3 separate regions of the Homo sapiens genome follow, and all the other regions are linked to region 2. Evidence: fine-mapped expression QTL. A gene starts in region 2. Each other region holds a variant in brackets. All regions are shown on one strand. Distances are between the middles of the regions.

Region 1 (10,010 bases), 74 kb before region 2:
GGAGAGTCCAGAGGCTGCACGTGTCAGGCCACACCCCAGGCGTGCCCGACCCACGCTGGCCTCCCTCACCGCCCCGAGCCCCGGGTGTCCCCCAGGGCGGGGTAAGCAGACACACAGACAGGATGCGGTTCCGAGAACAAGTGCACTTTATTGGTTCTGATACAGAGGAGCTGCCAGAAAAGCCAGCAGGCGGCTGCGGCACCCAGCCCTGCCCGAGGGGAGCACCAGGTCTGCAGGCACCGGGCCTGATCCGGAGCTGCCAATCAGCAGGCAGCCCTGCCTGCACAGTCCTCTTGGGCAGCCCACAGCCTGTGGCCGGCAAGTCCCTCCGTGGAGGCGTGGGTTCCCAGGTGGCCAGTCTTTCCTGCGCGAATGGGGCTTCTCACCTGGCCACGGCCACAGCCACAGTGCCCCAGCCTGCCTAGACTCCACGAGGCCCCGGTATCTCCAGGACAGCTAAGGCTGCTACTCACCACGGGCTGTGGCTGCCGCAGAGACCCCAGGCCCTCGGCCTCTCTGGCCTGCTCGGGCCCACATCCCGCTGGGCACAGTCCAGGCAGCAGGGCGGGACTGGCTGCCCACGACCACCCTGCTTGCGCCACGCCTGGTGCTCTGAGCTGGCCGCCTGGTGTGGGCTGAGAGTAGAGGGATGGAGCTTCCTCCAGTGGCCCCAGCATCAACAGGTGCTTCTCGCTGTCCTCTGGGCCAGGCTCTGGCCTGGCTCCTGCTCCCCGACACGTTCAAAGGCGGTGGCAGCGGCCCAGAGAGCCACGAGATCCAGTGTGCCTGCGCACGCATCCAGCCTGGGCGTCTGTGGGTGTCCACTCCCGGTTCTACAGTTTGAGTCGGGCACCCTCAGCTTGTTGTGGAGCCCTCTCCCTGAATGGCTTCGTGCCAGCCTTGAGAGGCCCATGGCCGGGGCAGTGACTGCCTGCAGGTAGGACCTCACTCGGCAGGGTGCTCTTCTTGCCCCAGGGTCCGAGGGGCAGGCCCCTAGCTCCCAGGCCCCCTGAGACCTGCCCACTTTCTGGTTAGACCCTGACTGTCTTGAGGCTCTGGAGCCCCACAGTGAGATGCCACCTTGCAGGGATGGTGAAGCCAGGGTGGCGAGGACAGGTGGGCGGGGCTGCTGTGAGAGCCACACAGGTGTGCACCTGGGGTCTGCCTCGGCCCCTCCTTCCACTCAGTCTCCGGCCTGTCTTCTCGACCGAGGTGTCCACCTGTCCACCGGGAGCTTGTCCAGAGCCCGGCTGTCCGGCGCTGTCAGTGCCCAGTGCCCAGAGCCTGCTGCCCCCAGACTCCTGGCTGCCAGCCCCCCAACCCACACCTGTGTGGCATGCAGCAGGCGGCGGGGCGCCTCACCTGTGTAGCCAATCTTCTCGAAGCTGAGCAGGCTGAAGATGCTGTTGTACAGCTGCATCTCCTTGCGGTGGCTCTGGTCCATCCCATCCAGGATCTCCATCAGCTCACTGCCTGTCTTGGTCGGGTGGGCGCACGCAGCCTCGTGCACCGTCAGCTCATGGAAGGGGCCGTGCCATGGGCAGCCGATGCGTTTGTACTTGCACTGGGTTACCCTGGGGGAGGCAGGTACATCACTCACAGACTGAGCCCCGAACAGGAGGCTGCAACAAGCTGTCCTCCCATATGGCTTCCATCCAGCTAAGAACCCCTTCCTGCAGGACACACGTAACTGTGAGCCCACCCCCCAGGATGAGGTCAGAGTGGCAGCATGTGGAGAGAAAGGAGACAGGCAGAAAAAGGGAGAGAGAGGGGAAGGAAGAGTGCAAGCTTGAGCCTGTGTGCCCCGCACCATGGCGTGGTTCTCTCCTCTGTTTGGCAGTGGTGGTCCTGCACAGCCTCACTGCAGGAGACTTGGTGGCTGCCTCCACTGGATGGGTAGCCATGGGCAGTGTACCCTCACACCAAGCTCCCTGAGGTCCTGCGTTGGACACGCTGTCCTGGGCCCTTCAAGGGGCTCCCCCACAGCCACAAAGAGCACTGGAAGGCTAGGCTCATGTCCGGATAACAACTGGGTGCAAAACCCACCTGTCCCCATCCTGTGCAGGCACCCTCCCACAGGGCCGTCACTGGGCTACACAGGTGGTCCCCAAGGCCCAGACAGCAGAGACAGCCAGACCACCCTGCACAGGGCCCTGCTGCACCAGGGTGGGCTCCCAGCAGTCCTGGGCCCCGCCTGTAAGGCTAAGCCCCTGACCCTCAGTTACCTGTCCTGGCATTCCTCTTTCTGGTGCCTCTCCAGGAGGGAGCGGGGAAACTGGCGCAGGCAGAAGCCACACTCTGAAGGCAGCTCGCTCACGGCTTTCTCCACGGCCAGGTTCCGGCAGCAGAGGCTCTTACTGATCTCACAACGACAATTGGGGCACGTGGCCTGCTCCTCCTTCAGCCGGGCATCTGCTAGTAGGTGGATAAAACAGCCAGCGCACATCAAGTGACCATTAGTACACTGCGAAGAAGGAAAGGGAGACGAAGCTCACAGACCTGCGGGCTCATGCTCGCACACACCCGCCCATGCCCATCAGCTCCAGCCAGGTGTCCTGAGGGACTCCAGCTGGTGCAGAGGGGCGCACGTGCCTGTCCCGAGTCGTGCTGGAGTGTGGTGAACACTGCGAGCTGCTCAGGAGAAACAGGCAGAGCCAGCTTGGGTTCTTGCAGAGATTAGAGGTCCTAAAAGCAAGGCCTCATCAGCTCACAGAGGTGACAGCTCGCCCTGGCAGTGACGGGTTCAGCCACCTGGGGCCGAGGGTCACGCTTTTCCCTTAGGGACCAGCGACTGCCCTGACCCCCCTACAGGTCCAGAGTTTGGGAGCCCTCCAGGAACACTGGGCTCTTGGCCATCACTGTCAGGTGGGGAGCGGATGCAGCTCCCACACTGGGGCAGGCATGCTCTCTGGGCCTTCAGAAAGGCCATTTATCCTGGGTTGAGAGGACTTGGCTCAGGGTGAGCCCAGGTGAGAGGAGGCAGCTGCCCCCTCGTCCAGGGAGGTTGGCTACCTGCAGAGACCTCCTCAGAGCTGGGAGGCAGGAGCCAAGCTGGCCCAGGACAAGGACAAGGGCAGGTAGGCACACAGGGAGTGCCTGGGGAGCAGAAATGGGGGCTCTGAGTGGGTGCCGAGCCTGCTGGGGTAACCGGGGCTGGCAGGAGCAGGGCACCTCCCGCTGGGCTCCCTGCCTGTGTGGGCTCCCAGCACGCCCAGTGGCCTATCCTGGCTCTCACTCCCTCAACATAAGCCTCGAGCGTCCACTTGGTGCCACTGAGAGACACATGGCAAGCTGCGGTCCCAGCCCGTGGGGGCTCACAGCATGGGAGGTGGGAAGCCCAGACCAGAACCAAGAGGTCCAAGAACAAACAAAGCCTTTTGTACCTGAGCAGACACAGTTCCCACAGCCCTGGCTGGAGTGGGGTGTGTGGGCTGAGGCATTCCAGGGCCAGCCAGGAGTGACAGGGATGTGATGTGCCTCCCACCCAAAGACTCTTAGAGCTCGCTGAGGGGAGCAGTCAGCAGAGTTGCTCCTGTCCTGATGCCTCTCCAGCAGCCGGCCCAGGCTTGCCAGCCATGCAAACCTCCAGAAAGCCACTGGGCTACAGGCTTCCTTTGGGACCTGGGACCCTCTTGAGAATGGGATGTGGTGCAGCAGAGCAGCCTGCCCAGGCCCAGCCTCTCTACAAGGTGTGTGTCAGGGAGGGGACACTCACAGGGCCCTGCCTGGTGGCGCTGGGAGGCCGGCCCTGCCTGGTGGTGCTGGGAGGCCAGCCCTGCACACGTGGGGCCCTGGGAAGTCTGAGCTGCCATCCTACTGCTTCAGCTGCCTGTGCACCCCAAGCTAAGGAGCTGTCAGACGCTGGGGCTGTTCACTCAGCACCTGTGGACTAGGCCTAAGGCCTGCTGAGTCAAAGGACCTACATGTGGAGAACCGACAGTGAGGACAAAGCCCTCTTTCATGGAATCCACATCCACATGAACACCACCCGTTACCTGCATTCAATCCTCAAGTTCTCAGTTTGGTTAAAAATTAAAATTACAGGCGGTGGCTCATGCCTGTAATCCCAGCACTTTGGAAGGCCGAGGCAGGCAGGTCACCTGAGGTTAGGAGTTCATGACCAGCCTGGCCAACATGGTGAAACCCCATCTCTACTAAAAATACAAAAATTAGCCATGCATGGTGGCGAGCGCCTGTAATCTCAGCTTCTCAGGAGGCTGAGGCAGGAGAATGGCTCGAACCCGGGAGGCGGAGGTTGCAGTGAGCCGAAATGGTGCCACTACACTCCAGCCTGGGAGACAGAGTGAGACTCTATCTCATGAATACATAAATAAATAAAAATTAAAACATACACAGTTGCCTGAGGCAGGGAGTGAGACTGGCTCTGACTGGGTTGGGGACAAGCTGAGACCTGCCCCCAGGAGAAGGTGTGAAAATCCGCCAGCCAAGTCCAGGGGTCAGTGGTGGGTGGACTACAGGCAGGAGGGGGCACAGATGCTATTGAAGCAGCTGTCCTGTGGGAGGCACAGACCAAGGGCCCACACCACTGTCCTCTCACAGCCCCCCGCCCCCCGGAGGTATGCCACTCCACGTGGCCAGCTCTAAACACCTCCTGGTGAGACTGCCGGGGGCCTTGGACGAGGTTCTGGGTCCAGCTCTGCACGTACAGTGGCCTTAGCACAGGCAAAACAGCACTCTTCTTGGCTGTGGCCCGACCCCCAAGGGAGTTCCAGGCAGGGCTGGAGCATCTAATGCCACCCACCAAGGCCACCTGGCCTCTCTTCCTGGCTCTGCATAGCCCAGGAAGATTCGAGGTGGGGTCCTAGACCCTCCTAAGGGAGCACTGAGGCTGCCAAGCACATCACCACTTACCTCCCAGCACTGCGGGCCTCTCCCCCGAAAGCCACCCCAGCTCCTGGGCCGGCCCCTGGCCACAGGCCTCATTCCTTTGGGGCCTCCAGATCCCAGCATGGGCTCAGTCAATTCCATACCATGAGGAGGCAGCAGTGACCCTGCCCTCCTCTGGCTCTCTCTGGGCCTCCAAGAGGACCTGCAAGCTCCGAGGAGACACAGGGCCATTGCCCCTTCAGCCCCAATAGCTCCATTCAAGTCAGAACACAGGGAGTCCCTAGAGTGCCCTGGACTACACTGGCCCAGTAGCCAAGGGACACAGCCACACTCACCCCCAGACCCTCCCCACTGGTCAAAGGACATCTCTAGGTGCATGGCCCGGTCCCGACCAACACTCAGCCCAGGAGGTCTGTCCACAGCAGGACGGTCCCTGGTCACATGCTCCGGAGCCTCCCCACCATCTGGGTCCCCTCAGCCCCTGCGCAAGACTCTGGCTCTACACCAAGGCCAGGCCACAGGCAGCTGCATCCTTGGCCCTGGCAGCATCTGGCCAGATGCACTTGATTCTGACTTGTGCCCAACACCCAACAGAAGCTGGGCCCTGGAGGGCGCCGCACAGTCCAGGGGATGGCGTGGGCCAAGGCCCCCAAGAGCCCGGGCACCTTCCAGAGCAGCTGCTGTGGCACCCAGGCCAGGCCACCTCTCCCCACCAGCCAGGAAGACCCCAAGGGAGGGGAGAGGAGGGGATCCACAACCCCCCACGACCAAGAATGACGCCATGGGGGATGACATCATGGGCGAGACATCACAGAGGATGATGTCAGAGGGGTGACATCGTGGGAAATTGACATCACATGGGGAATGACATCATGGGGGAGACATCACGGGAATGATATCACGGGATGATGTCACATGAATGACATCACAGGGGGGACATCATGGGAGACTGGCATCACATGGGGGGATGACATCACCGGGGGATGACATCACAGGGGCATGACATTGCAGGGGAATTGCATCATGGGGGGTGACATCACGGAATGACATCACAGAGATGACATCACACTGGCATCATGAGGGA[A/C]TGACATCACAGGGGATGACATTACGGGGATGACATCAAAGGGAGTATTGACATTACAGGGGATGACATTGTGGGAAATTGACATCATGGGGGACTGACATCATGGGGGGATGGCATCATGGGGGGAATGACACCATGGGGATGACATTAAAAGAGGTATTGACATCACAGAGGTGATACCACAGGGGATGACATCATGTGGTGACAGCACGGGAATGACGTCACATGTATGACATCACAGGGGAATGATGTCATGGGGGAATGACATCACGGGGGAATGACATCACAGGGCCTCCTGGGCCCTCCTAGGGCAGATGTGGGCTTGAAGCCACAGTGCTGGGCTCAGACGCCAGCCCACAGATCCCCAGTAATATGACCTTGGGCTCCCCTCTTGGGGCCTCAGTTTCCTCATGTGCACAGGTGATGAGTATAGGACCAGCTTCATTCTGTGCTGATGAGGTGGGATGGGACAGGGTGGCACTGCCCCACACCCAACAGGCAGACAGGAAATATCACCACCTTGGGCAGCCATGGCAGAGCCCCTGGGGCTGCCAACCCCAGGAGCCAGACCCCAGGCCCCTCTGCAGATGCTGATACACACAGGTGGCCCAGAAATGGCCATTTGCACCTGCATCCTCAGGACAGCACCCAGCCCTCCCCCCTGCTGGCTACAGGCAGCTCACGTGACCCCCATGCAGACCCAGGGTCTCCACCTGAGCTACTTCTTCCCTGGGGTTAAAGGGGAGCTAGATGGGCGGAACAGGCTCAAGGAGCCCTGACCCCATCCCCTGGCTGAGGGCCCCCACGATTTCCTGGTGGTCCCAAGGTCTCTATGGTCAGCTGACCTTGTAGGACCCCTTTCACACCTGGACTGCATGGTTCTCTCAGACCCTGGGGACCTCCTGTTTGCCACTGGAGGATGGCACAGTGCCCAGGCCCATGGGAGCAGTGCCCTCGCTCACCCAGGGGTCAGGGACCCACAGGCCCTTGACAGAGGTCGTCAGAGCCAAAATGCAGCCAAAGGGCTTCCCTGTGGCACAAACCCCAAAAGCGCTGCTCAGCCAGTTGGAGGTCCCCCTTCCTCTGCCATCTGCATGCAGGCAAGGCCTCACCAGGGCCAGTGGTGCTTCAGGGCACACCCCATGCACCCCGCGTGCTCGGCCCCTAACCTCCCGAATCAAACATGGGTCTGAGAGGGACTGGCACGTTGTCCAAGGCCGCACAGCTGTTAAGCATGAAGCCAGGACTCGAACCCTCCACCCAGGCTGGATTTGAAGTCCCTCACCTGCTACTGCTGTCAGACCTCAAACGGTGGCCAATCAATCCCCAGAGTCGGGCCCACATTCAGAACAAGGCTGCTTAGATCTAAAAGTAACTCAAATGATAACCACCACAGAAAACAAAAATTCCAACTAGCCAGAGATTCCAGAACATCTTCCTTGCTCCTGTGTTTTAGATACCTAAGCAGACGTATTTACAAAGATGTTTTCTGCCACTTTCCTCACCTCAAAGAACGAGTCAGCTGCAGTCCTGTACTGCTGCCCAGGAGACTGGGGAAGAGGGGCCCGAAGCTCCTTGGACATGTGGATGGTGACTCCACCCCCCCAGGACTGCACACTGTTGGCCTGGTTGGGGGTGTGGGGCTCGGGCAGAGAGGAGCCATCTCTGCTTCCTGGGCTGTTATCAATGGACTGTCAACATGTGGCATAGAGACATGGGCGCTACAGGCGGGAGGGCCACGGCACACACCAACCCACCCACAGAACAGAGTGGACACACCCTGGTCAGATGGGGCAGGAGGGGATCCTTGTAGCAAGGAGAGAACAAAGTCTCAAAGTGGGGGCGCTGCCTCTGCCGGGCCCAAGAGGTGGGCAGGGGCAGGGAGAGGACACCTCAGGCAGGAGAGCATGGGAATGGCAGGGCACTGTGCAGGGCCGAGTTAGAGGGAGCGGCTGGACCACATCTGTGAGAGGCCCCTGCCCGGCACTTACACCCGAGTGAGCCCGTTTTTGCCTTAAGAATGCCCCATGAGGGGTGGGAACAATGCGCAGTCCCTTCCTCCAGGTGCCAGCACCAAGGCCCAGGGCCTCATCTGACAGCAGCAGGAAGGGTCAGGGCCAGGTCTGTCTTACGCAGCATCACACTGGGCCTCGTCTGAAGGGCCAAAATGGAGGGAGAGAAGTCAGGGATGAGGCTGCGGCTGCAACGTCCCGGGCACCGCTGAGGCTGTCTCTTCCCAGAGGAGGTGCCCCATGGGCAGAGGTGCCAACAGGCCACACTGCCCTCGGGCCGCAGAGCAGGGAGCCGGCAGGAACGACCTGACCACCTGCGCGGCCTGGTCAGGCCAGAAGCTCCTGCACAGGTGTAACTGCTGCCCCACCAGCCCTCCTGCCACCCACCTGAGACTCCAGAAGGTGGCTGCACACCTTGTCAGGCCAGTCCCCCAGAACATATCTAACACCCACACAGAGAACATAAAAGCTGAGTCTTGCTGTACTGGCTGCAGCCCCAACCTGACGTGAGGCAGGACTCGGCGGTGGCGGAAACCTTTTGCATGAGGGCCTCAGTCTGACACCCAAGCAGGTTTCCCAGCCTGTGAGGCATCATCGTACGGGCACAGGCCCATGGGTCAGCTGGCCCTGCAGGCCCAAAGGCTCAGACCTGGGGCACCACCCGAGGCTTCCCTGCCAGCACTGGTGGCATCTGGTATCTGGATGACAAGCTCTCGAGTTACTGAGGACCCAGCCAATTCCAGAGGCCCATGGAGTTGTCCCCCACAGCCCCAGTGCCAGGGAGAACACACAAAGCTCAGCATGGCCACTCCCCTCTTCTCACCAGAGTCAGGGACTGTCTAAGTCAGCCCCCAGCTTGGCTGGTGCCCACCCTGAGCCATGTGTTCTGCTGGGGTCAGGAAAAGCGTTCTAGCAGGAACAGAGGGTGGAACCTGCTGCATTCCTGACACTGGCTGGCTCGAGACAGCCAATCAACGTGGTCACCAAGGAAAGCTAGTAGAATATGGTAGACTGAACCCAAGCTGGGGTGATGGCCAGCATGGGCCCAACCAGGGACACGCAGAAGGCAGCATGTGGGGGCCCACACCATCTGTGCCCAGATTCTCCAGGGAGCAGAGCAGGCCAGAGCCCAGGTCTCCAGGTCTGTGTTGACCTTCCAGGGGCACCACTCACAGCCGAGAGCCACCCGCCGGAGGTGTTCTTCGCAGCATTCAGGGAGGCCTGTGCCCACAGCACTCCTCGCTCAGCTGCTCTGTTCCCAGGGAAGTCACTGAACAGAGCCCCCAGGCCAGGGAGGGCCACCAGCCAGGGCAGCCCCAGCGCCTTCGGTCTCCATTACACCTGTTCAGCTCCCTGCCTCTGGCCGCCCAGAGCAGAACTCCACTCTGCACAGTGCAGGCCGGTTTGAACCAGCTAGGCTCAGAGGCCTGGTCACCAGGAGCTCCGGTCAGAAGCAGAGCCATCACTCTGTGCCGGGCCAGTCTAGATGGGGGATGCAGTGCACCAGGGACCAGTACCATGTGGCCCATCACCACCAGGTCCAGCTACAGCTCCAGCCCACCCACCAATGGGGAGACAAGGAGACTTCCCTGTTCCCCCGTGGCCTCACACCATTGGCTTGGCTTGTTGGAGTCTCCCTCGAGATCCAAGAAAAAGTTCTGGCCAAGCGCAGTGGCTCATGCCTGTAATCTCAGCACTTCAGAAGGCCGAGGCAGGCGGATCACCCAACGTCAGGAGTTCGAGACCAGCCTGGCCAACATGGCGAAACCCCGTCTCTACTAAAAAATACAAAAACAGCCGGGCATGGTGGCAGGCGCCTGTAATCCCAGCTACTCGGGAGGCTGAGGTAGGGAGAATTGCTTGAACTCGGGAGGCGGAGGTTGCAGTGAGCAGAGATCGTGGCACTTCACTCCAGCCTGGGTGACAGAGTGAGACTCCGTCTCAAAAAAAAGGAGAGTTCTTCCGCCTGGGAGGATCGAAGGTTGTGAGCCAGGAAAAAGGAGCTGGAGAGTGGGCACATCTTGGAAGCTGAGGCACTGCCAAAGCCAAGGAGTAACTGCTAACTC
Region 2 (10,010 bases):
TGCCCTCCTGAAACACAGGTTGGCAGGCCAGTCTCGGCAGTCGAGAGCCAGCCAATAGATGGAATGGAGGCCTGCACCTGCGTCTAACTTTTGACGCTATAAATAGGTTCAAGAAACTAATAAAACGTTCTGGTTTTCTCCTTTGACAAAAACATTTTCTTAAAGCTCTGGGGCATCAGGTTCAAATTTAGAATTCCTGGTGTCCTCAGTGTCTTCACAGGATGTGACCATGTAGGGAGAGCCACCCAACCCTGTCACCTTCTCCTTCTCCACCCATGCCCAGCAGGTCAGGAGCTTCCTGCTCAGGACGTGGATGTGTGTCGCTTGCTGCCCCCGACTCTACCCCCAGGCAAGTGGCTGCTGCTTGGTTCTAGGGTGCAAGAAGCTGGAAGTACAGGGTATGGCTTGAGAACTTTGCTTAGGTGACAAAGCCCGGGGTCCCATTACCCAAGCATGGCTAGGAGGGGGAGAGCAGGCCCTGGGCAGACACGCCTCCTTGTTATCCTGTGGGGGCCTGGGCAGAGCTGGCCTCAGAGGAGCTACGAGCCCCAGGGAAGTCAAGGCACAGCTTTGTCCAGCACCTGCTCCTGCTGGCCTAGGGGTGGGACCAGCTTAACTAGAATTGGGCCTTTTTCTCAGGTAACCTGTCAGAGAATTGGGGGATGAGAAAAATAATAGGAAATTCGGTTCAGGAGCCATGGGTCTGTGCTTCCCATGCCGGTCCCCAGAAAGGTGTCCTGTCTTTGGGGATAGATGGGGCCCTGGGAAAGCTGGGGTGGGACAGGGGACGCCTTGGGCCACCAACTGGGTTTCTGGTGTGGCTTCCCAAGTGGGCTCTGGGAGCAGTGTGACCTCTGAGATCAGCAAGGAGCAGGGAGTTTGCTGGGGGACCATATACATGTACTTGTCGTAAAGAAATGGGAAGGCTGGGGTCTGGTTTCAGGAACAAGGAGCCCAGTTTTAAAAGTAGGGATCTGGGCTAAGCCAGCCAGCCCACCCGAAGCCAGGGAAAACAGGGCTGCAGGTGTCCTGTCTCCCAGCCTCATCTGGCCGGCCTCCCCAAACATTTGCCTGTCCATCAGCTCTTCCTCCTTTCGAGTCATGTGGAAAGGGACAGGACCAAGTGGCCTTGGTGTTTAAATCTTGCCCTAAATTGTAACTCACATGATTATTTAAAGTCACTAGAAATAAGTAAGCACAGCAATAAAGTTTTAATGGAATAGCTTTGGCCCAGGCAGAGGCAGTTCCCAGATGTCTCAGGACGCGTGTGAACCCCAAGAAGTTGGGGGCGTTATCTGGGCCCTTGGGATCCATTCCCCTGGGTATAAAGTGTTGGTACGTGGCTCCAGGCCTGGCCCACTCAGCCTCCCCCAGGAAGGCTTCTCAAGTGGAGAAGGTTCTTGGCCTCAGAACTCACGGCGCTGCTGCTCACGCTGACCCCCCACTAGATGCAGATCGGTGTAGAAAGGCCTGCCAGGGCAGGGATGAGGGCCCCAAGCTGGAAGCAGCCCAGAAATCCTTTTACCAGAGGACAACTCCCTAATCCGCTGGGCAGGGGCGGGGTGTCACACGCAGGATTCCGCGACGACTGTCACTGCCTCCTGGGCGCCCCTCTGTGCGGGAGCGGGGAGGGAAGAGGATGGAACGCCCTGTGTCTGCCTCGGGCGCAGTGCGAGGCCCAAGCTGGTCTTTGGGCGGCCCTTGCGCACCTCTGCAGCGCTGCGACCTGGTGCCTGTATCCCCCACGGCCTCCTCTGCTACCCACGAGAGCCGGTTGATTTTCGGCCGGGCTCAGGGAGGGCGTGGCCTCCGCGTTCCCCATCCCCCTCCAGGACCCACGCCCTTCTCGGAGCGCACCAGGGTCAGAGCCGGGATGGTCCCCGATCCCCCAGCGCCCCCACGCCTGGTGACCTTGGGTCGGGCGTCCCCTCACCTGACGCTCCCGCGGCGAGCGGCTCCCCCGCCGTGCAGGTGGCGGCCGGGCCCGAGCAGTCGCCGGGCTGGGAGGGGGCGGGGGACGCTCGCGCACGCGCACCAGAGCCCCGCGCCCGCCGCCAGTGCCTGACGTCTCGAGCGCAGGCCAATCCGGAGGGCGCCGGAGTCGGGTGCGCGGGGGGCGCGCGCCGTGGGGAGCGGGGTGTCCGGGAGGGCCGGGCCGCGGCAGCACCAAGGACAGCGCCGGGTGGGGGCGGGGCCGAGCGCGCAGGCGCACTAGGCTGCCGCGAGCGCGGGTGGCGCGGGCTTTCCGGGGCGTGGAGTCCCGGGGGAGCGGGGCGAGAGGCGCCCGCGGCCTCCCGCCTTTCCCTTGGCCCCGCTCAGGGCGACCGAGCCGCGAGCAGCAGCGGGGCCAGGTCCATGGTGAGGGCGAGGCGGCGGCCCTGCCAGCGCACGTGCGAGGGCAGCGCAGGCGCGCCGGGCCCGTACTCGAAGCAGGCGCTGAGCTCGAAGGCCAGGGCGGAGCGCACCAGGCCCACGCCGCCCGCACGCTCCGGCGCCGGGTGGTACAGGCGCCCGTTGGCGGCCAGGGGCAGCAGGCGCGCCGGCTCGAAGGGCACGGCCAGGGCCTCGCCACCGCCGCAGTAGGAGAGGCGCGGAGGCCCGTGGTCCGCGGTCAGCAGGTGCGTGAAGACCACCGGCCGGTCCTCGCAGCGCAGGAAGTTGCGCTCTCTGCCGCAGGGCGAGAGGAAGGGGAAAGCGGCCTCGTAGCGCCCGCTGCGGTTGGGTCTCAGGCGGGAGAAGAAGGTGACCAGGAACTGCGGGTCTGGGGGATGAAGGGTGCGTGTACTCAGCGCGCTGGGCTCCCAAGGCCTCCGGGCCCAGGACCATACCGAGGGCAGGCGCCGACGGTAAGAGGTTCGCCTGGCCTCACTCAGCGGGGCTCCTGAGCGCAGGACGCCCACTCCTTGGTGCGCTGGGCCCGTCGGCAGAGTCGGGGAGCCCATCAGGGGCTGCCCGGAAGGGAGAAAGAAGGGGCTGGAGAGGGAGGCACAGCATTACCTTTGAAGCAGGTGATGAAATTCTTCATTTTGGAATCATCCAGGAAAAGCTGCAGATAGAGGGCCAGGCCGTGATAAGTCCCAGCGTGCAGGTGGGGGCGGGGAAGCTCAGGAGGTCCTGAAGCTCGGGAGGTCCTGAACCGGCCCGAGCCCACTTTTCCTGCTTGTCTGTGCACACCGCATGCAGGGAGGCGCGTGAAAGGTAAACCTGGGGGCCCCGCCGACTTATCCGCGTCTATGCGCACCTCTGCTCCCTGGTCAGCCAATTCTTTCCCGCACCTTTTCCCTCTTTTCAAGTTTGTAATCAGTTGTACCACCTCCTCCGCGGAGACTACCTGGCCTGCTGCCTCCCGGACATGCAGCTGCCTTTTGACAGGGCTTCCAAAAAAAGGCAGGGCGGCCCGGGTGTCTCCCTGGCAGCGGCGAGAAGTCAGCGCCGGGGCTGGGGACTTGTAGGACAGAGTCCGAAGCTGCACAACGCAGCAGGGACGCGGCCCATGTAGGAGCCTCGGCCCGGACCGACCCAACTCCCCGTCTTTCCAGCGCGCTCTCCTCCAGCTCTGAGGAGTCGAGGTTGCCCACCGCGCAGGCCCCGCCCACCCACCCACCCCCTGGAACGTCCCTCCGGCCCCGCCCCTCGAGCAATGGTCCCGCCCACAGAGCCACGCCCCCCCCCCCGCCCCGCCCAGAGACCTCTCCCGGCCCCGCCTCTCGAGCAACGGCCCTGCCCCCGCCCACCTGGCCCTGGTGGTCCACGTAGTAGAAATACTCGCGGGTCCGCGGCTCCGGACTCTGGCCCTGCGTGTAGGAAACGCCCCCATCCCCGCTGCAGGCCCGGGCTCCCCGCGACCGCGCCAAGGCCAGGGTCCGGAGCGTCCCGCAAGGCGGCCACATTCTCCTCCCGCGCCGGAAGCGACCAGCAGGTCACGCCGGGGGCGGTGCTGCGCGAACTCGCGCCTGCCCGCAGTAGCCCCGCGCTTCGCGTTCCGGCGGCGCCCGCCTCCGCGACCCGGGCCCGGCGCTCTTCCCTCTCCCTCGGGCCTCGGGGGCTCGCCCGCCCTGGCCTTCCGAGAGGCGTGTGCCGGTGACGCCCCTTCCGGTCCGCCCCGCGTCTCTTCCCGCCCCCGGCCGCGCCCACAAGGAACGGGAGGACGCGCAGGGTCCATGTGCACTTTATTCACTCGTGTCGTCGCCTCTCGGGTCCATGCGTCGGGGCGAGCGTCTCAGCCGGGCGGGACCGCAAAGGCCCCGGGACCACCCGACTGAGGACGCCGCCCAGGCCTCGGCAGGGCTGGGGCTTTTGTTTTTAATAAATAAAAACGGAACTCTAAAAAATATATATATAAAAACTGGGGAGAAATTAAGTTTTACAACAATTGGAACTCAAAATTCCAAAATGGAAAATGTACAAACTCGGTCCCCCAGCAGCTCTGGCCCCGAGAACGGACAGTCCCGGGCCCGGCGCCTTCCCGCTCGCTCGTCTCCTGCAGGTCTGGGATGGGGATGGGGTAGAGCTTGGTTTTTGGTCAGAAGCCAAGAAAAAAGATCGGAGAAGAAAAGAAGGAATGACCTCAACTTGCTCTGCACGGAGGACGGGGACGGCTCAGAGATAAATAGCATTTAGGTTAAAACTATGTCATTAGCAAATTTAGTTCTTATATCTTTCCCTCTATTTATATCTCTATACACGGTGGGCTGCGATGCAGGATAGATTCTGGATTTACAGTTACACGAAGAAAAAAATACTCTCGCCCCTCCCCCACCCTGCCCCCAGAATGCCTGCCCAGCCCTGCTCCCTACCCCAGAGGACTTTGGTTTGGGGGCCCCCACCCCACCCACCGAGAGCCTGCCAGGCCCCGGGCCCACTGTCCTGGAGCCCCCAAACTCCTGAGCAGTCACCAGCTGGGGACCACGGGCCGAGGGAGGGAGAGGAGGCGGGGACAGGTCGGGAAGCTCTCTCGGGGCTGGGAAGAGCTGCAGGCCAGGACGAGGACAGGAGAAAGGGAAGGAGAGACCGGGGCGGCTGGGCAAGGCCCAGGCCAGGGCGCGCAGGAGCCACAGGGAGGCAGCCCGGCCCCAAGGAGGCAGCGTCGCTCGGCTCCAGGACACAGAAGGCACTTTCTCGGAGCTGACCCGCGGCCAGCGGAGGGCGAGGCGGTGCCCGCGGGAACTGGCCGTGAGGTGGGGGGCCAGAGGCGCCCTCCCCGCCGCTGCTGTGCCCTGGCTGCACCCTCAGACCAGGCAGAAGACGTGGGGAGCGCCGGGGCCAGGGGCCTGGGGGAGTGGAGGGGGCTCCAGGGCTGGGCCGGGCGATTCTGGCCCCTCTGCCGGGAGAGCGAGTGCGGAGTTCGGCCTGGCTGGGGGCGGCAGGACATCCCTCCTGTCCCCGGGCGCCCCCGCTACAGCACACCCTCCATGAAGCTGGTGTCCAGGTGCTGGATGAGCACCCGCAGGAAGGACATCTCCTTGCGGGTGTTCTCGAAGATGACGCGCGGGTCGTCGGACTGGCAGCGCAAGCAGTTGGGCGCCATCACCATGGCCAGGTTGCTGACATCCATCTTGGTGACCGCGACGTTGGCCGGCTGCACGAAGACCTGGTGGAGGAGCGAGGGTGGGCGCGGAGGGGCGGGGGCGGGGCGGGGAGGGGAAAGCAGCGGGGACCCCCGGGGAGGGAAGTACCTGCAGGAAGCGGATGAGGTAGCACAGCACCATGCGGTTGATGCGGGGCAGCGCGTGCACCACGGCCACCGCCGCCTCGGGGCTGTCGTAGTGCGCGATGCACTGCTCGTAGAACTCGTGCGGGATCAGGGGCTCCTCCAGCTCCCGGTACCACAGCTTCAGCAGGGACGCTGGGGACACAGCACGGGGCTCAGCGGCCCTGCTCGGCGGGCACCCCTGGGCCAAATGGGGTCCCGTGGCGGACATGCATGGAGGGGTGCTGTGGGGGACAGGCTGGGAGGGCCGGCTCATTCTGGACAGGGCCCATCTGGCCAGGCTGGGCCCTGACCCCAGAGGGCCTTTCGGCTCCTGGGGGCCTGAACTCGATCCTGGAGGCATGTGGGTCACGCCAGCAGAGTTGTGCAAAACAGGATTTTTCTCAGGAGTCGTCTGTGTAGCCACCGTGAGGGGGTGTCTGCAGAGCAGGCACAGCTGAAGGGCACAGGGCAGAGAGCAGCAGGTGGGGAGTGGGCTAGACATAGCAGGCACGGCAGAAGGGCACAGGGCAGCGAGCAGCAGGTGGGGAGTGGGCTAGACATAGCAGGCACGGCAGAAGGGCACAGGGCAGGGAGCAGCAGGTGGGGAGTAGGCTAGACATAGCAGGCACGGCAGAAGGGCACAGGGCAGCGAGCAGCAGGTGGGGAGTGGGCTAGACATAGCAGGCACGGCAGAAGGGCACAGGGCAGGGAGCAGCAGGTGGGGAGTGGGCTAGACATAGCAGGCACGGCAGAAGGGCACAGGGCAGCGAGCAGCAGGTGGGGAGTGGGCTAGACATAGCAGGCACGGCAGAAGGGCACAGGGCAGGGAGCAGCAGGTGGGGAGTGGGCTAGACATAGCAGGCACGGCAGAAGGGCACAGGGCAGGGAGCAGCAGGTGGGGAGTGGGCTAGACATAGCAGGCACGGCAGAAGGGCACAGGGCAGGGAGCAGCAGGTGGGGAGTAGGCTAGACATAGCAGGCACGGCAGAAGGGCACAGGGCAGGGAGCAGCAGGTGGGGAGTGGGCTAGACATAGCAGGCACGGCAGAAGGGCACAGGGCAGGGAGCAGCAGGTGGGGAGTGGGCTAGACATAGCAGGCACGGCAGAAGGGCACAGGGCAGCGAGCAGCAGGTGGGGAGTGGGCTAGACATAGCAGGCACGGCAGAAGGGCACAGGGCAGGGAGCAGCAGGTGGGGAGTGGGCTAGACATAGCAGGCACGGCAGAAGGGCACAGGGCAGGGAGCAGCAGGTGGGGAGTAGGCTAGACATAGCAGGCACGGCAGAAGGGCACAGGGCAGGGAGCAGCAGGTGGGGAGTAGGCTAGACATAGCAGGCACGGCAGAAGGGCACAGGGCAGGGAGCAGCAGGTGGGGAGTGGGCTGCATTGCACAGGTAGGCCTCGGGGTGCCCAGCAGACACCTGGGGAAACTGTCCAATGGGCAGAAGGGAGGATGTGCTAGAAGTGACTGGGAAGCCATCACATCACTGGGCAGGATCAGGGTGGACCCCAGAGGCGGAGACAGGGGCCCCTGAGAACCACTGCCTGAGCCAGGCCCGCTCTGCTGCAGCGTGTGTGGGGGACTCACCAGGGACGTGGGGGTCTTCCAGGCCTGTGGGCACCTTCCACTGGTCCACCTGCAGCTTCAGGGCATTCACCTCGTCAATGTCCCCAGGGACCCTGCAGGGCACAGGGCAGGTCTCAGGCAACAGGAGCCTGTGCTGCGGCTTCATGATTCCGCCTGGACACTCCCTCCGGTAGGCCCCTGCTGACCCGGGGAGGGGAGCAAAACCTCAGGACCCCCCGCCACCCCGGTTGGCCTCTTTCCCACGAACGTGGGTGGGTGGCGCTCTTCAGGATTCCTGCCCCACACACCTGCGTCCGAGTGTGGTGCTTCCCCAGGCCACCGTCCCTCCCTGGACCCCTGCTGGCTCCCTGGGTGGATGCCCTCACCAAAGGGCCACTGGGGCTCAACCTGCAAGCCTCAGTTTCCCCAGCTGCCCTCCTGGGGCCTGGGTACCCCTTGCCCTGACAGGTGAGTCATGGGAGTGGGTGGCACCCTGTGCCATCCCTGTTCACAGACAAGGGCTGCCTGTCATCTGAGGCTCCCACTCCAGGCTACCCATGGCTGGTGTCCAAGCACGCTCTGGACCCCTGGTGGCCGTCTCTGCAGGGGCGCCCTCCCTGGCTGGCTGTGCTGCCTCTTTGGAATGGGTCCTGCCCTCTCTCCTGGCCTGCACACCCTCAGGGTCAGCTTCCACACTGTGGCCCCACCCTTCCATCTGCTCTCAGGTATGGGTGCGGAAGCAGCCCAGTGGGCCTGAGGCTTAATGGCCCCTGCATGCCACAGATGCATGGTGGACACATGGCTGTGGCCCCCACACCCGGCGCCCGGGGTTGCCGTGGCACCTGAAGATGCCCTCTGTCTGGTCACCGTTGAGCGCCAGCACCTCCTCAGAGAGCCGTGTCTGCACCCAGGGCAGCTGGCGCTCGGGGTAGCGCTCTCTCTGCATGCCCATGACCTCCTGCAGTGCGCTGCCGAACATGGACGGGCTGAACACGGCGTTCTTGGCATGCCGGATCTCCTCCACGTTGGGCTTCTTCAGCCCCTGTGAAGACAGAGGCTCCGTCCTGGTCTGGCCTGGCCATCCTCAGGACCCCCCGCCACCCCGGTTGTCTTCTTTCCCCGAACATAGGTGGGTGGCGCTCTTCAGAATTCCTGCCCCACACACCTGGGTCCGAGTGTGGTGTTTCCCCAGGCCACTGTCCATCCCTGGACCAGCCCTCCTCGCCCCCCAAACCCTAACTCCTCCTGGGCTGCCCCTGGCTCTGCCTCCCCCTCCTCTCATCCCTGTGAACTCCTGGCTCCAACTAGAGCTACGGACAAGCCCAGCTCCCTGGCCAGAGTCACCGTCTACAGCACCAGCTCACAGGGGCCCTTGGGAAGGTGGGAGTGAGTCCTGGGCCGGCCAGGGCTGTTGGGGAGCACAGCAGAGGCCAAGCTAGCTGAGCTGGGGTGAAACTTCCAGAAGTCTGTGGCAGGGCTGAGAGCGCTGGGGAGGGGTATGATGGGAGCAGCGCATCAGAGAGAAGAGGATGTGGGGAAGGGGCCAGGCTCTTGGGACAGGTCCAGGGAACGGGGTCCTGTCCCTGTGGTGCGGTGTGACTGAGCCCGTTGCCTGCCTTGCTCCTGAGCTGGGGGTCCGGGCCCAGGAAGAGCCCCCGGGGGAGGGTGCAGCCCAGAAGAACACGGGGTCAGCCTAGCGTACCCCGCCACCCGCCTAGGCGGGCTCCATGTGGCACCCTCTGCGCTGCTGCCCCATACCAAACTGCAGGCGGGGCTCCTGGGGCTGTCCACCAAGGGTCTCTGTGTCCCCGCCTGCCCTCCCCGGCCCCCCAGGCGCACCCGTACCTTCTTGGCCCCGGTCAGGGCTGCCTTCTGTAGCTTGTGGTAACAGTACTTGGCATACGTGCTTATCGCCACCCCTGGAAAGGAAAGGGGCCTGATCAGCCTGATGTGGGTGTGTGGGTGTGGGGCCAGGAGAGGGGTGAGCAGACACAGCTCCTTCGAGGGCCCTGGGGGGCTGGGCTGGCCTTGCCCCGGTCACCCCCTGCCCAGCACAGCGGGTCCTCACACTCTCCCAGGCAGTGTCCTTTAGAGCAGAGGCCCAAGGAGCACTTCCCCACCTGCAGAGGGACAGGCTTGGGAGGAACCGCCTGGCAGCTCCACCTGCCCTCCTACGGCCACGCAGGAACAGGAAGGGCAGGACCTGGGTCTGAGGGCCTCTAGACCCCACTGCTCCCTCCCCGGGGCCTGACCCAGGGAGCTGTCCAGGTATTTGACTCTTCTCTGCTTCAGGCCCCTCCCTGGCTTTTAGGCTGTGGGCAGGAGCCCCTGGAGGAGTCATTTCCACCTACCCAGCACCCGCAGCCAGTGCTGGGGGAGGCAGGCACTGAGCTATCTGCACAGCAAGCCCAGCTCTGCTGCAGCCCTGGGCCTGAAGTACCACCTCTGGGCTCTTCTGAAGGACTGAGGCAGCAATGAGAGGGCCCAGTCTCCTTTCTCAAAGGAGGGGCTTCCTAAAACTCAGCCCGACAGCAGGGTCCCTGAGGGGAGGGGCAGTGTGCCTGAGTCAGCACCTGATGAGGGACTCAGGGACCTCAGCCTGGGGAGTCTCCAGACACAGAGCCCAGGGGAAGGTGCTAGAGGGGAGAGGATTCCCAGGCTGGGTCTGGAAGGCGCGGCACCTTCCTGCTCCAGGTCGGGAAGCAGCAGATGAGAGAACACGCCAAGAGAAGCTGTCTGGGGCCAGGGGAGCC
Region 3 (9,632 bases), 46 kb before region 2:
GTCTCTGATTGGCCTGTCCTGGCCTCATCCCTCACCTGCTTGGGATGCACTTGGACTCTGCTTTGCCCCGAGGGTTGCCTGGGCTGGCACCTAGCAAGGGGGCTCCTCCTGTATGACTGTACTTTGGGGTCTGTGTTCTAGGGATTCTTGAACCTCTGGTCTGAATGAACAGCCGATTGATACAGCTCTCCACTGCATGCAGCTTAGGAACCTCAGTCTCAGGTGACCCCACAGACTACCAGCACCCCCAGCTCCACCCTTGCTCTTCCCCGAGCGTGTCCTAACCCTAGCACTTGTGCCACATCTATCCATTGGCCAAAATGAGAACTGGGTGGCAGTTCCAGGCCCTTCTTTCATGCCGAGGCTCTCCTGGCACTGGTGCACGCACACCTAAAGGGAGGCCTTTTCATCAGACTTGCTCAGCCAGGAGCTCAGAGCCTTCCATGTCACATCCTGTGCTGGGACCCCTGTGCCAGAGGCTCAGCAGCTGTTCACTTGTTCAGCTCACTGCACTTACTGAGTGCTGCCTATGAGTCAGGAACTGGCCAAGTTCTTAGGATGCAACAGGGAAACAAACAGTAACTGGCATGTCAAGAATTAAAACAAGGTGATGAGATAAGAGAATGACAAGGTAACCACAGAAGATCTCTGAGGAGGTTGCACTTAAGATGTGATCCGAGTCCCACAAAGGAGCATGCTGTCCTAAGATCCGGTGGAAGAACTTTCCAGACAGAAGGAGCAGCTGATGAAGGTGGCGGTGATGATGAAGCTGGTAGCACCAAATAAATGTGCTAGACCAGGGGTTGGCCAGCTTTTACTGTGAAGGGCTAGGCAGCAAACATTTTAGGCTTTGCTGACCATGTGGCTTTCTGTTTTTTTGTTTGTTTGAGATGGAGTCTCACTCTGTCGCCCAGACTGGAGTGCGGTTGCACAATCTCCACTCACTGCAACCTCTGCCTCCCGCGTTCAAATGATTTTCCTGCCTCAGCCTCCCCAGTAGCTGGGATTACAGGCACATGCTACCATGCCAGTTAATTTTTATATCTTTTTTTTTTTTTTTGAGACAGAGTCTTGCTCTGTAGCCAGGCTGCAGTGCAGTGGTGCAATCTCAGCTCACTGCAACCTCCGTCTCTCGAATTCAAGTGATTCTCCTGCCTCAGCCTCCCAAGTAGCTGGGACTACAGGCGCATGCCACCACGGCCAGTAATTTTTGTACTTTTAGTAGAGATGGGATTTCACCGTGTTGGCCAGAATGGTCTCGAACTCCTGACCTCATTATCCTCCTGCCTTGGCCTCCCGAAGTGCGGGGATTACAGGCGTGAGCCACTGTGCCCAGCCCATGCTTTGATTTTTTACATCAAACTTTATTGAGGTGTAACTTACAGTAAGATGCACCTATTTTAATGGGTTTTGTGTGATGGGTTTTGTTTAATGGGTTTTGTTTGATGGGTTTTTTTTTTTGACGGAGTCTCATGCTGTGTCGCCCAGGCTGGAGTGCAGTGGCACGATCTTGGCTCACTGCAAGCTCCGCCTCCTGGGTTCACACCATTCTCCTGCCTCAGCCTCCCAAGTAGCTGGGACTACAGGCGCCCACCACCACGCCCGGCTAATTTTTTGTATTTTTTTAGTAGAGTCGGGGTTTCACCATGTTAGCCAGGATGGTCTCGATCTCCTGACCTCGTGATCCGCCCGCCTCGGCCTCCCAAAGTGCTGGGATTACAGGCGTGACCACCGCGCCCGGCCTGTTTGATGGGTTTTGTGAACAACGTCATAATCCAAATATAAAACATTTCCGTTGCCCCCAAAAGTTCTCTCGTGCTCCTCTGTGGTAAGCCCTTCCTCACACCCAGCCCAGGCAATAGTGATCGCTTTCTATTACTGTAGGTTTGGCGTCCCTTTTTAAGAATTTCACATTGGCTGGGCGTGGGGGCTCACGCCTGTAATCCCAGCACTTTGGGAGGCTGAGGCGGGTGGATCATCTGAGGTTGGGAGTTCGAGACCAGCCTGACCACCATGGAGAAACCCTGTCTCTACTAAAAATACAAAAAGTTAGCCAGGCATGGTGGCGCATGCCTGTAATTCCAGCTACTCGGGAGGCTGAGGTAGGAGAATCCCTTGAACGTGGGAGGCGGAGGTTGCGGTGAGCCGAGATCGCACCATTGCACTCTAGCCTGGGCAAAAAGAGCGAAACTCCATCTCAAAAAATAAAATAATTTCACATCAATGGAATCATATGGAATGAATACTTTTGTGTCTGATTTATTTTGCCAGATGACAATGTTTTAGAGATTCAAGTGGTTTTGTGTATCCGTAGTTGATTCCCTTTTTCTTTTTTCTTTTTTGTTTTTTTGAGACAGAGTCTTGCTCTGTTGCCCAGGCGGGAGTGCAGTGGCACGATCTTGGCTCACCGCATCCTCCGCCTGCCAGGTTCAAGCAATTCTCCTGCCTCAGCCTTCTGAGTAGCTGGGACTACAGGCGCCTGCCACCATGCCCTGCTAATTTTTTGTATTTTTAGTAGAGACAGGGTTTCACCATGCTGGCCAGGCTGGTCTCGAACTCCTGACCTCGTATCCGCCCGCCTTGGCCTCCCAAAGTGCTGGGATTACCAGTGTGAGCCACTGTGCCCGGCTGCCGCCGCCGCCGCCGCCGCCTTTTTTTTTGAGATGGAGTCTTGCCAAGTGCAGTGGTGTCATCTCGGCTCATTGCAGCCTTGGCCTCCCGGGTTCAAGCGATTCTTCTGCCTCAGCCTCCCAAGTAGCTGGGACTGTAGGCATGTACCACCACACCCAGCTAATTTTTGTATTTTTAGTAGAGACGGGGTTTCTCCATGTTGGCCAGACTACCTGAAGTGATCTGCCTGCCTCAGCCTCCCAAAGTGCTGGGATTATAGGCATGAGCCACCGCTCCTGGCCAGTTTATAGTTTTCTTATTTTTTATTTTATTTTTATTTACTTATTTTTGAGATGGAGTCTTGCTCTGTTGCTCAGGCTGGAGTGCAGTGGCACAATCTTGGCTCACTGCAACCTCCACCTCCTGGGTTTAAGCAGTTCTCCCTGCCTCAACCTCCCGGGTTTAAGCAGTTCTCCCTGCCTCAACCTCCCGGGTTTAAGCATTTCTCCCTGCCTCAACCTCCCGGGTTTAAGCAGTTCTCCCTGCCTCAACCTCCCGAGTAGCTGGGACTACAGGCACATGCCAGCATGCCCAGCTAACTTTTTTTTTTTTTTTTTTTGGGACAGTCTCACTCTATCGCCAGGCTAGAGTGCAGTGATCTAGGCTCACTGCAACCTCTGCCTCCTGGGTTCAAGCGATTCTCCTGCCTCAGCCTCCCGAGTAGCTGGGACTACAGGCGCCCGCCACCACGTCCAGCTGATTTTTGTAATTTTAGTAGAGACGGGTTTCACCATGTTGGCCAGGATGGTCTTGAGCTCCTGACCTCATGGTCCACCCGCCTCAGCCTCCCAAAGTGCTGGGATTACAGGCGTGAGCCACCGCGCCCGGCTTATTTTTTTGTATTTTTAGTAGAGACGGGTTTTTGCCATTTTGGCCAGGCTGGTCTTGAACTCCTGACCTCAGGTGATCCGCCCCCCTCAACTCCCAAAGTGCTGGAATTACAGGTGTGAGCCACCGCGCCCGGCCCAACTTTCATTTCTTTTGCGTATGTACCCAGAAGTAGGATATGCCTTCTTTTTTATGTTGTGTGGCTGACAGAGTTACGTTCTGTTCTGTAACGATGTTCACATGTCAGTCTTTCTATCTACAGAACCAGGCAGTGTGTGTAAAGTAGGTTTCCTCATCTGTGGGTCCAGTGTCCCAATTCCTGCCTCCTACAAATGATGTTCTTGGCTGGCTTCAAGTTCAAAGGCTTTCCTCCTGTTTCATGCATCATCAGTCTCCTTCATCACGTGAATTTTTTGAACTTTGTCATCCTATGTGTTGTGTCGTTCTGTTTTCTTTATTTCTTTTTATTTATTCATTTATTTTTGAGACGAAGTCTTGCTCTGTCGCCCAGGCTGGAGTGCAGTGGCACCATCTTGGCTCACTGCAACCTCTGCCTCCTGGATTCAAGTGATTCTCGTGCCTCAGCTTCCTGAGTAGCTGAGACTACAGGTGCATGC[C/T]GCCACGACCGGCTTTTGTATTTTTAGTAGAAATGGGGTTTTACCCTGTTGGTCAGGCTGGTCTCGAACTCTTGACCTCAGGTGATCCACCCGCCTTGGCCTCCCAAAGTGCTGGGATTACAGGCATGAGCCACTGCGCCCGGTCTCTTTTTTTTTTTGAGACAGAGTCTTGCTCTGTTGCCCAGGCTGGAGAGCAGTGGTGTGATTAGAGATCACTGCAGCCTCAAACTCCTGGGTTCAAGCAATCCTCCTGCTTTGGCCTCCCATATGTTGGGATTATAGGCGTGAGCCACCATGCCCAGCCCTTCCCTGTTTTCTTTTTCCTTGGCCACCTTCCCCTGCTCATCTCTCTGCTCTGACAGCTCCTACCATCTTTCCTTCCAACTTCTAGGAATGTGCTGGCTGACTGTGAGCTCTCTTTCTTGGAAATGCCTTTCCAGCTCCTGTCCCAGGCTCACAGGCATCTCAGTGGCTTACTGTGTCACCTGCGCCCTAGGTTGGTTGTCTAGACCCCACACCTCTGTTGTCCTAAGGCTGGGGACCCTCACGGTCCCAGTGCTGCCTCCTTCCACACTCCCAGGCCCTGTGCCACTGGCACGTCTGTCCGCAGGTCCCCTTCCCACAGCCCCACCTAGACCGAAAGGTCTGTGTCTCTGTGAGGAAGTGAATACCGAGTCAGAGCAAATCCTGGGTTACAGCGCCGACCCCTCTGAAGCTCACTTTTGTGATTTTGGTTTCCTCACCATTGTACTTGACAGACCTTAGTTGCCACATCTACTCCGTGGGGGTTATGGCCCATTAGAGCTATGAGGCTGAATGAGGCAGTTCATAGGGAAGGCTGCTTGTGGCCCTGGCTTCTAGAAAGGTGTGATTTGCAGGGGCTGCTAGGAGCCCTCCCTGCCCTCTCTTCCCTTTCTTTTGGTCTAGGGCTGGCTTTTATCTTCAGTTCTCGTTGAGTCTCTTTTCAAATGCAGATGCCTCAGGCTGCCAGCTTCTTTCATTTAGGCATCTGGGCCTTTGACACCTTGCTGTGAGTTAGTTTATTCGATTTATTTTGAAGCCAGGTGGCAAGGGGAAAGGAAATTGAAGAGGGAGATGCAACGCTTCCCCTGGTTTCTGGGGAGAGGCTTCCCCAATTCTCCAGCCCCTGACAGACATTGCGTGAGAGCTCATGGTTAGCGGGCCAGTCCCTGGTGTGGTCCACGCGTATCTCCTGTCCCGGGCTGGAAGCATGATGTGTGCAAATGTCCAAATCACGGGGTCTTCCCTCCCTCACAGGGCTTTAGCCAGGCAGCTGTTACTGAGGTAAATAATGATTTGTGTTTGTAGATAAAAAATAGTGGAATAGTTTCAATTTCATATGGTTCTGCTGCTGGGTGTTATGCAGGGGGAATCTGAGGAGCACTGAGATCACTGGGAAAGAGGCCGGGTGCGTGGCTCACGCCTGTCATCCCAGCACTTCGGGAGGCCGAGGCAGAATGAAGAATCTCATGCCAGGGGCCAGAAAGGAGGCTGAGACCAGAGTGTGAGTAGGAGTCAGCCCCCTCAGAGGTGGGACCAGAGAGGAGGCTCCTTAGGAAGCCATAGTGAGGAGGACATGTGGGACAGGCTCAAGGATTGACAAAAGAACCAGTAAAAAAGAATAGAATCTCAAAAAAAAAAAAAAAAAAAAAAAAAAAAGGCCAGGCGCAGTGGCTCATGCCTGTAATTCTAGCACTTTGGGAGGCCAAGGTGGGTGGATCACTTGAGGTCAGGAGTTCAAGAATAGCCTGGCCGACATGGTGAAACCGTGTCTCTACTGAAAATACAAAAAATTAGCCAGGCGTGGTGGCACACACCTGTAATCCCAGCTACCCGGGAGGCTGAGGCAGGAGAATGGCACGAACCCAGGAGGTAGAGCTTGCAGTGAGCTGAGATTGCGCCACTGCACTGCAGCCCGGGCAACAGAGCAACACTCCATCTCGGGAAAAAAAAAAACAATAGATAAAGAAAAATAAATAAAAAAAGAAAAGAGATGGCTCAGAGATCCCTTGTAGACTTCCCGGGTACCCATGTGGTAACGTTGCACCTGTCAATGGAGTACAGCAGTTCAAGGGGATGTTGACACCAATGTGCTCCATTGACCTTATTCAGATTTCACAGCTTTCCATGTGTCTACCTGTGTGTGTGTGGTTTAGTTCTGCGCATCTGTCACTGTAGGGTTTGTGTGAGCCCATGGCCAAGATGCAGCACAGCCACCATAGGGACCTCTTGAGCTGCCCTCTTGCAGCCACAGCCACCTCCCTTTCCCAGCCTGAACCCCTGAGAGCCACTGGTATGTTCTCCATCTGTATGGTTTCACCATTACGAGAATGCTCCATAAATGGAGTGCTGCAGGGTGTGGGCGTTGAGGTCGGCGTGATGTCCTGAGGTCCATCCAGTTGTGTGCACTACTAGTGTGTTCCTTTGACTGGAGGAAACGTCTATGGTATGGATGGACGGACCATCATGTTTCACCTGTTACAAGACATTTGGTTTTTTCCCCCAGTTTTTTGCTATTATGAATAAAGTTGCCATGAACATTTATGTAGTTTTTTGTGTGACTTAATTTTTTTTATTTTTTGAGACAGAGCCTCACACTGTTGCCAGGTTGGAGTGCAGTGGTGTGATCTCGCGCCACCACACCTGGCTAATTTTTGTATTTGTAGTACAGATGGGGTTTTGCCATGTTAGCCAGGCTGGTCTTGAACTCCTGACCTCATGTGATCCCGCCTGCCCCAGCCTCCGAAAGTGCTGGGATTACAGGCGTGAGCCACCACGCCTGACTTAAATTTTCATTTCTCTGGGATAAAGGCCCGTGAGCGCAGCTGCTGGGTGGTTTGGGAGTTGCATGTTGAGCTGTTTTGGTTTAAGAAACTTCCACACTGCTCTCCAGAGTGGTGGCTGTTTTATTTCACAGGTTTTCATCAGCTCCTGTGAGATTCCTTTGTCCTCACATCCTTGCCGTTTGGATTCGTGGGCAGCGGTATCTCGCTGTGGCTCTAATTTGCATTTTACGAATGGCGGGTGATGTTGAGCATCTTGTCACGGACGCATTTGCCATCTGTGTATCCTCTTCAGTGAGGTGTGTCTTTGCATCCTCTGCCCATTTTCTAATTGGATCGTTTCATTTTTACTGCTGATTTTTTGAGACTCGTGTGTTCTTGACAGCAGTCCTTTGTTCTGTGTGTGGTCTGTGGATATTTACTCACTCAGTAGCTGTCTTTTCATCCTCCTCTCAGGGTTTTTAGCAAGGCAAAAGTTTTTAATCTTGTCAAGGTCCAGTTTTTCCGTTTTCCGTTTTATAGACTGTGCTTTTGCTTTTGGTGTCACCACTCTGTAGAAGTGCTATTATTTTACCTTTACGTTAGATTTGCATTTCACCTGGGGTGGGGGTCAAGATTCTTTTCTTTTCTTCTGTTTTTTTGTTTTTTGATTATTTTCTGTCACCCAGTCTGGAGTGCAGTGGTGTGATCTCGGCTCACTGCAACCTCCACCTCCCAGATTCAAGCGATTCTCCTACCTCAGCCTTCAGAGTAGCTGGGACTACAGGTGTGTGGCACCACAACCGGCTAATTTTTTGTATTTCTAGTAGAGACGGGGTTTCACCCTGTTGGTCTCGAACTCCTGATCTCAAGCAATCCTTCCCCCTCAGCCTCCCGAAGTGCTGGGATTACAGGCGTAAGTCACTGCGCCTGGCCCCAGCACCATTTATTGAAGGCTTTTCCACTCCCAGCAGTGTCATAAATTGCATGTCTACACATGTGTAGGTTTATTTCTGTTTTGTTTTGGGGACAAAACAAAACAGTCAGAGACAGAGTCTTTCTCTGTCCCCCAGGCTGGAGTGCAGTGTTGATTTCGGCTCACTGCAACCTCTGCCTCCCAGGCTCAAGTGATCTTCCCACCTCAGCCTCCCAAGTAGCTGGAACTGCAGGGGTGCACCACCATGCCTGGCTAATTTTTTAAATTTTGTAGAGATGAGAGTCTCCCTGTTTTGCCTAGGCTGGCCTTGAATCCCTGGGCTCAAGTGATCCTCCTGCCTCGGCCTCCCAAATTGCTGGGATTGCAGGTGTGAGCTGCCTCATCTGGCAATTTTCTGGACTCAACCGTATTCCATTGGTTTATTTCTCTATGCCTAAGCCAGTAACTTAGGTCTTACTTACCAAACTGTATATAATAAGTCTTGACATCTAATAGTGTAAGTACTTCAAATTTGTTCTCTTTCAGGCTTATCCCTAGTGTTCTTGGCCTTTTGTGTTTCCATATAAGTGGAGCATTAGCTTGTGAGTCTCACACTGTTGGGGTTTTGATTGGGACTACGTCAAATCTTGGATGAATTTGGGGAGAAATGACATCTTTTCAGTTCTGGGTTTTGCAACATATAACGAGATGTCTCCTCCTATATCTTCCCATAAAGATATGGTTGTGGTTTACTCTGTACATCTTTTGTTAGGCTTATTCCGAGGCATTGAGGCTTTTGGGTGCTATTCTGTTGTTCAGTTCTAAGTAGGAGTGGACATCCTCCCCTGACAGCCTCTGTCTTTCCAGGGAATTTGCTTTGGGAGGGCAGGAGAGAAAAGGCAAGGGAAGCTCTTTCCAGGGGATATGCTTTGGGAGGGCAGGAGAGAAAAGGCAAGGGAAGCTCTTTCCAGGGGATATGCTTTGGGAGGGCAGGAGAGAAAAGGCAAGGGAAGCTCTTTCCAGGGAATTTGCTTTGTCTGGGAGGGCAGGAGAGAAAAGGCAAGGGAAGCAGATTTCTGCAAGCGTCAGAGCCCTTGAGGGAGTGGCTCTGCTATGTTCAGAGTCACTGGGGCTGTGGGAGCAGGAGGGCATGGGGCAAGGTGAGGGCATGGCAGCGAGGGAGGCACTGGAGTGTTGGAGTCAGGGCTTGTAGTAGCGAGCCAGGCAGAGAGGAGGCGATGGGCAGAGAGTGGGATGTTGAATGGAGGTGACAGGCATGGGCTGCAGTTACTGGTGGTGATGGAGCACAGCTGGCCAGAAGATAAGGACACTGGTGTAGAGAAGAGGTCAAGGCTCAGAGGGGATAGGCAGTCCACAAAGGTTTGTCCACAAGAACATTAGACCACCAGGAATTTGGGCAACGATGGGCGGGGGTGAAGCCACAGTGAGGGCTGGTGCTGGGTGGTTGGTGCCTGATGATGTGTGCTCCAGCTGGGATGCTCAGGGAGAGGATGGGAGGGGGACTCCAGGCCTCAGCCAGGAGCACAGGGGTTGGGGAAAGAGGGCCCTCAGTAGGGAGGACATGGTGTCGCTGGGGACAGAGCCCCAGGGGAGGGTTTCAGGATGGAGGGTGGAGAGAGCCTGGATCAGAAGCCCCCTCCTGGCCTGGTGCAGTGGCTCACCCCTGTAATCCCAGCACTTTGGGAGGCTGAGACAGGCGGATCACTTGAGGTCAGGAGTTCAAGACCAGCCTTGCCAACATGGTGAAACCCGCTCTCTACTAAAAATACAAATATTAGCCGGGTGTTGTGGCACACA

Alleles and levels. Positions count from the first base shown, and alleles are read on the strand shown. Sizes are in standard deviations (SD) of each study's normalised expression. Not every link is listed here.
As copies of C replace A in region 1, the expression in subcutaneous fat of the gene that starts at base 4,085 in region 2 goes down (moderate effect, 0.71 SD a copy in GTEx).

Evidence for each region. PIP is the estimated chance that this variant, and not a neighbour inherited with it, causes the effect. A credible set is the group of variants that fine-mapping cannot tell apart.
Region 1: its variant is the best candidate, but not a certain one, in a credible set for the expression of C8orf82 in subcutaneous fat (GTEx, PIP 0.85).
Region 3: its variant is the best candidate, but not a certain one, in a credible set for the expression of C8orf82 in whole blood (TOPMed, PIP 0.88).

The regions. Positions count from the first base shown.
Region 1 is chr8:144,450,997-144,461,006 of GRCh38, forward strand. It overlaps TMEM276-ZFTRAF1 (TMEM276-ZFTRAF1 readthrough), which reads right to left. Exons shown (of 5, transcript NM_001408018.1): 3 at 2,226-2,464; 4 at 1,363-1,574. ZFTRAF1 (zinc finger TRAF-type containing 1) reads right to left here. Exons shown (of 4, transcript NM_001330618.2): 2 at 2,226-2,464; 3 at 1,363-1,574. Among named protein-coding and RNA genes, the nearest start is that of MIR10400, 6.5 kb to the right of the region's middle. The variant A/C (reference allele first, on the strand shown) is at 5,933.
Region 2 is chr8:144,525,027-144,535,036 of GRCh38, forward strand. It overlaps C8orf82 (chromosome 8 open reading frame 82), which reads right to left and starts at 4,085. Exons shown (of 3, transcript NM_001001795.2): 1 at 3,735-4,085; 2 at 2,998-3,046; 3 at 707-2,761. The coding sequence starts at 3,890. The coding sequence ends at 2,316. LRRC24 (leucine rich repeat containing 24) reads right to left here and starts at 2,007. Exons shown (of 5, transcript NM_001024678.4): 1 at 1,934-2,007; 2 at 1-7. ARHGAP39 (Rho GTPase activating protein 39) reads right to left here. Exons shown (of 12, transcript NM_025251.3): 8 at 9,103-9,176; 9 at 8,100-8,299; 10 at 7,279-7,370; 11 at 5,676-5,845; 12 at 4,153-5,590. The coding sequence ends at 5,396. It overlaps LRRC14 (leucine rich repeat containing 14), which reads left to right. Exons shown (of 4, transcript NM_014665.4): 4 at 1-146. RefSeq lists enhancers at 1-287, 1,020-1,876, 2,734-3,590 and silencers at 1,802-2,191, 3,319-3,613, 3,571-3,620, 3,631-4,220, 4,952-5,051.
Region 3 is chr8:144,479,446-144,489,077 of GRCh38, forward strand. All of the region lies in intron 1 of PPP1R16A (protein phosphatase 1 regulatory subunit 16A), which reads left to right. Among named protein-coding and RNA genes, the nearest start is that of PPP1R16A, 6.3 kb to the left of the region's middle. RefSeq lists enhancers at 4,825-5,524, 5,525-6,224. The variant C/T (reference allele first, on the strand shown) is at 4,116.